2 separate regions of the Homo sapiens genome follow, and region 2 is linked to region 1. The links come from fine-mapping of genetic effects on gene expression. Tissue or cell type: thyroid. Region 1 holds a variant in brackets; the other region holds the start of a gene. All regions are shown on one strand. Distances are from middle to middle. Region 1 overlaps TMEM132B (transmembrane protein 132B). Region 2 holds the start of TMEM132B (transmembrane protein 132B).

What was found. PIP is the estimated chance that this variant, and not a neighbour inherited with it, causes the effect.
Region 2: TMEM132B starts here. The variant in region 1 is fine-mapped to the expression of TMEM132B in thyroid (GTEx, PIP above 0.99).

What each region holds. Positions count from the first base shown.
Region 1 is chr12:125,215,666-125,218,567 of GRCh38, reverse strand. The region is part of intron 1 of TMEM132B (transmembrane protein 132B); the gene reads right to left. Among named protein-coding and RNA genes, the nearest start is that of TMEM132B, 31 kb to the right of the region's middle. The variant C/T (reference allele first, on the strand shown) is at 1,217.
Region 2 is chr12:125,184,559-125,187,460 of GRCh38, reverse strand. It overlaps TMEM132B (transmembrane protein 132B), which reads right to left and starts at 1,075. Exons shown (of 9, transcript NM_001366854.1): 1 at 595-1,075. The coding sequence starts at 661. RefSeq lists a silencer at 1,083-1,292 and an enhancer at 1,341-1,874.

The sequences.
Region 1 (2,902 bases):
GCAGAATACAGCCAGGGTGGGGGTTTCTTCCCTCCTACCCCAGAATGCCATGTCGTGGGCGTTTGAGATTTTTAGATTTCATTTCTGCACTGGAAATCTAGAAGCCAGATACAAAACATTACAATTTCACAGCAAAGAAAAATAGCTCTGGAAGCTCTCGGTCACAAGGACAAAGAGACAAAAATCTATGGAAAATACTAAAATAGGCCCTTTTTTCTCATTTTAAGGGGAAAGGACGATTGAGAGCTTGCCTTTTTTTCTTTTAAAATATTTTTATTATATAATTTAAGTTAAAAAATGCACATGGCATGAAATTCGAAGAATACAAAAGCACACCATACAACATTATCACCTCCCATCCCTTGTCCCCCAGGCAATCCATTACCCTCCCAGAAGGTACCCAACTCCCCCAGTCTTATAGGACTCCTTAGGGTGTTGCTCCACCTATTTGCAAACATATACATGTGTATTGTTCTCTTGTCCACACTTGGCAGTACTAACTCCCTACATCTTGCTTTATGCATTAAAAGCACATCTTACAGTTCCATCTCCCTTAAAATTGGCCCGCCTCATTTTTTAACAGCTGCAAAATATTTCCCTGCATGGATATGTCATAATTTGCTTAATCAGTTTAGGCTATCCTCAAATCTCTCCTCTTACGAACAACTGCTGCAGTCATTATTAAGACATTTTGCACACGTGGAAATTTATCTGTGTGATAAACATCTCAGTGCGCAATTGCTGGGTTCAAGGCATGGACGTTTTAATTTTGATACATAATGCCTGTCAGTGCATTTAGAATTAAAGGAAGGAAGGCCAGGCGTGGTAGCTCACACCTGTAATTCCAGCACTTTGGGAGGCCAAGGAGGGAAGATCACTTGAGGCCAGGAGTTTGAGACCGGCCTGGGCAACATGGTGAGACCCCCATCTCTACATAAAAAAACATTGTTTTAATTAGCCAAGCATGGTGGTGCCTGCCTGTAGTCCCAGCTACTCGGGAGGCTGAGGCGGGAGGATCGCCTAAGCCTGGAAGGTCAAGGCTGCAATGAACTGAGATTGTGCCACTGCACTCCAGCCTGGGCAGCAGAGCAAGACCCTGTCTCAAAACAAACAAACAAAGAATTAAGCGAAGGAGTATATAGGCAAAAGAGAACACTTTCTACATCTATACCCCATCCCAGGCCCTGAAACTCAGAATGACCTAAAAGTACTGGTA[C/T]CCCAATATATAAGATGGGAAACTGAGGCTCAGAGAGGAGAGTGAGTGACCCAGCCATGTACCCGGCCCCCAGCCTGGCCTCTCTTCCCCACCCTCCTGCCTAGCTGCCACTGAGGTATGGCCTGCAGCTGGCTCTCTGCCTCCCAGCCCATGAACTCCAAGTGCCCTGAATCTGTTGATTTACGGTTCTGCTTTGATACCCATATTAATCACCATAACTTTTAATTGAGCTAACACAAGCATCGTATGTTGCTAATTACACAATGCAGATGAAAAACTCTTCCAGATGAATTTAACTGCTTAGTCCAATCAGACTGGCAAGTTGAGTTTTAATTACAAGCCAGTGCATACAGGGAAGGCATCTGCGCGGCCGAGTGGCTCAGGGCCTGACGGCTCCAGCTTGTGAAGCGCCAAGATCGCAGCCAGTGGCCACAGCATCCTGCCCAGCCACGCAGGAGGCATGCGGATAATGGAGGAGCTGCTCGATGCCTCCGGCCAGCTTGCTGCCTCCGTGGACCCACCCGAGCCCCTGGGTCCAGACATCTGTGGAGTCTCTGGCAGGAAGAAGGATCTCCAAGTCCCCACGGCTGCACTCCCCAACCATTCCAGCTCAGAAAAGGAATCACTGACTCCTTTTCTCAGGAACTAATCAAAGGCCTGTTATCAGTGACCTTTTCTTGAACATCCTTTAACATCCTGTCAATTTGCCCACACTCACAGAGCAGAGAGAATCAGGCCACGATAACGGAGTAATTCCAAGGGCAATGCCAGGCTGAAAAGACATCTCAGCACTGATTTTCTCAACAAAGACACAAAGAAGGCCTCCAAGGCTGAGGGCTGGAGAATAAAGCTTAGAGGAAGAGAGGTGTTACAAAATGAAGTTTTGTGTTCACCTCCCCAAGCCACATGTGAAAGCCCCAATGCCCAAGGTGACTATATTTGAAGGTCAGGCCTTAATGGAGGTAATTAAGGTCACATGAGGTCATAAGGGTGGGACCCTGATCCAACAGGACTGGTGTTCTTTTAAGAGGAGACATGAGAGAGCTTCTCCCCTGCTTCAAGCCTCCCCACCCACCCTCTACCTTTAGGACACAGAGAGGAGGCTGCCATCTGCAAGCCAGGAAGGGAGCCCTCACCAAAAACTGACCTTGCTAGCACCCTGACCTTGAACTTCCAGCCTCCAGAACTGTAAGAAAAGAAATTTCTGTTGTTTAAACCACTCTGTGTGGTATTTTCTTATGGCAGCCCAAACTAATACAGGAGGCAGATGGAATCAAGGCCTCCAGGGATGCCCAAGTTCAGAGGCCAAAGAGCAGAGAGATTCTTAAGAAGGGGCAGATAAAGATGGCTGTGGTAAGCAGAATAATGGTGCCCAAAGATGTGCATGTCCTAATCCCTAGAACACTGCCCTCCTGGCAATAGAGACTGTGATCAAGTTAAGGCTCTTGAGCTGGGGAGATTACCTTCTGTTATCCAGGTGGACCCAGTGTAAGGGTCTTTATAAGAAAGAGGGCCAGTGCAGTGGCTCACGCCTGTAATACCAGCACTTTGGGAGGCCAAGGCGGGTGGATCACCTGAGGTCTGGAGTTCAAGACCAGCCTGGGCAACATGGTGAAACCCCATCTCTACTAAAAATACAAAAATCCTCTAGGCGTGGTGGCGCATGCCTGTAATCCCAGCTACTCG
Region 2 (2,902 bases), 31 kb after region 1:
GCAGCGGGCTGCTCTTTGGCCAAGAGGAGGCCATTTGGCGAGGGTGGGTAGCTTGGGGAGGGCAGTGTGAAAGCAGGGGAGGGCCGCGGGGCGTGGGGAGGGGCTGCGGACAAGCCAGACAGCGCCGGCCGAGACATCTCCGGGGCCCGCAGGTGTCCCGGGAACGCACCACTGTGCGACCGCGGGCAGCAAGACACTGGAGAAGGGCTGCGTCGACGCCCCCGCCCAGCAAAACCCCTGGAGGAACTGGGACCTGGGGGGGATTTGGCCCAAGGCAGGGCGGGGAGGGGGCTCGATTCCTGCAGTCGCGTCCCCACCCGCCTCGAGAGGCTGAGTGCCCCGGTCTGTGGCCCCCGTGCGTCCCGAAAGGATCCGCAAGGAAGCTAAGGGTTTGGGGGAGAAGGCAGGCGGGCTCTCCCCAGGCGCTAGGCAAAGGGGAACGCGCCGGGGGCTCCTGGGTTCCCAGGGTCTCCCCAGGTCTGTCCAAGTCCGGGAGATGCGCGCTGCCAGGGACTTGAGAAGGAGGTAGCCGCCCGTTCACCCAACTTTGTGCGCCTCGGCCGGGGTCGGGGATGGGGTCCGGGGACGCGTTACCTGGGCACTGGAGCGCAGTCAGCGCCAGCAGGAGCCCGAGCGGCGGCGCCCGGCCCGGGGGCGGCATGGTCCTCGGCGCGCGGTGGGTGCGGCGCGGGGCTGCTCCTCTCGCGCGCCCGGCCCGGCCCGCGGCTCCCGGAGCAGCCCCCGGCGGCTACGCCCGGGCGCCGGGCATGGCTCGCTCCCAGCGCGCCGCTCCTCCCCAGACGCATGCGCCGGCGCTGGCGGCGCTTCCTCGGCTGCGCCTCTGCGCGCTCTCCTGGGCTCGGCCGTGCGTGGCTGGGGAGCTGGGGCGGCCGAGGCTCAGCGCCCCGCGCCCTGGCCGGCTGCCCCGCAGTTGGCCCGAGTTGCGCGGCCCCCGCCGCCGCCGCCGCCGCGGCTCCTGCGCCCCAGCGCCCGTCCCATCCCGGTCGCGCCGCCGCCGCCGCCGCCGCCTCTGCCATCGCCATCTGCCGGCCGCCCCTCGAGCCAGCGAGAGAGTGAGCGAGCGAGCGAGCGCCGGGGGGAGGAGGAGGAGGAGGAGGAGTAGGAGGAGGAGGAGGAGGAGAGGAGCGGAGGGCGGGGCCGCGGCCGGGGGAGGGGCCGCCCGGGAGCCGGGGCACAGGCGGCAGCCCGGCCAGTAGGCGGCGGGACGCGCCACTGCTCGGCGGTTCGGGGGAGGGCGCCCGGCCGGGAGGCTCCGGGAGCCCGCCGGGGGTCGCGGGCGCTCGCGGGTACAGGGGCTGCGGGAGGGGTGCGCAATGCAGAGAGGGGATGCCCAGCTAGATCCGGCGTCTTGGGGCGCAGCGGTAGGAGTTGCCAAGGTCGAGGGGTGAGGAGGCCAGCGGAGGGTCACCGGGATGGGGCAGCGACCTCTGGAGAGGTGGTGTCTGCCGGGGCCAGAGACTGCAAGACTGAGCGCGGACAGGAGGTCCCGGGTTAAATGTGGCACAGCTAGGGAGTGCCTGTGGGAGAGGGGAGAGGAGAGAGGGGAGGGCCTCCGGGAGGCCGAGGCTGTGTGCAGAGCCTCTGCACGGCACCGGGATGGGGGCTAGGGGTGCGCAGGCTGGGTGCGGTGACCTGAAACACAGCGAAGGCGGCCTGGGGATGGCCACCCGGGTGAGGCAGGGTCCCTTATTTACCCAGGCTAGAGGATGCGCCTTCCCATTTCGCGCAGGCCCTAGGAGCACGCGGAGGCAGCCAGGAGTTCTCCTGGGAAGGGCAGATTCCCTGGCGGTCCCGGGAATGAGTTCCCAGCGCAGGGTCAGGCAGTGACGGAGCGGAGGTGTTGCGCAGGGCCGGGTACTAGGTGGTCGAATTCTTCCATCCAGGGGCAGGGACGCAGCCAGAGTGCGGAGGGAGGTCACAGGTCACACGGAGCCCCAGTACCTATTATCCCAGAAACCACTGATCCTCCTGGGCGCCCCACCCCCAACCAGGGCAAAGCCACGGGGGGCTAAGCCGAATGAATGAGTCATGCTGGGAGCATGTGGGGGAGCCTCCAGCAGCGCTCAGATGCCTTCAAGCTTCCCCACCACGCTGGGAGGACAGGGGATATGGGGGGTTGCCCACCTGGGAGGGTGGCTTGGAGTCCTGGCTCCGCCCCAGCCCCCACCACACCAGCCACTTGCTCTGCCATCTCAGTTTTCCATGAAAAAGTGGGTCAAACTCTTTGAAAATGGTCAATAAGGCAGCGTGGGGTGATGAAAAGACAGATTTGGGGAAGGCTCTGGAGTCATGGAGTCTTGGCTGAGAATCCCAGCTCTGCCGCTCCTTAGCTGTGCAAGCTGGGGCGAGTCCCTTATTCCTCCCTGAGCCTCAGTTTTCTCATCTGAGAGATGGAAGGCATTGCACATCACCTGGTGTCCCCAATAACACATACAAAGCCCCTGACCTAGGAAGTCGGAACTCATTTAAAGGAGTCAGTGTCAACATTATCATTCTCATCATCATGGCCATTATTATGATAGATCTGATTTTCCTCTGCGGGCCCAGAGCTCACATCAGAAGGACAATCCTCCCCACTCCCGGCTGCCAAGAGGGGATGGGGGACAGGGCACCTGCTTGATTAGTACAGACAAGCTCATTAGCAGAGGCAGCACTCAGTTCTTCCTAGATAAAAGAAGGAAGAAAGCCAGGGGCAGGTGGTGAGTCTCCAGCCCAGGTTAATTAGGAGACGTAAAGGGATTTTCCCGTGGCTGTTAATCGGCTTCCTTTACAAGGGGCCCATGCCCAGGCCAAGCCCCCTTTGGGCTCCCTGGCAAGGCCTGCAATGTGTGGAGAGCCATACAACAGGCTGGACGACGGGATTGGGGGTCTCCTCGGGCTT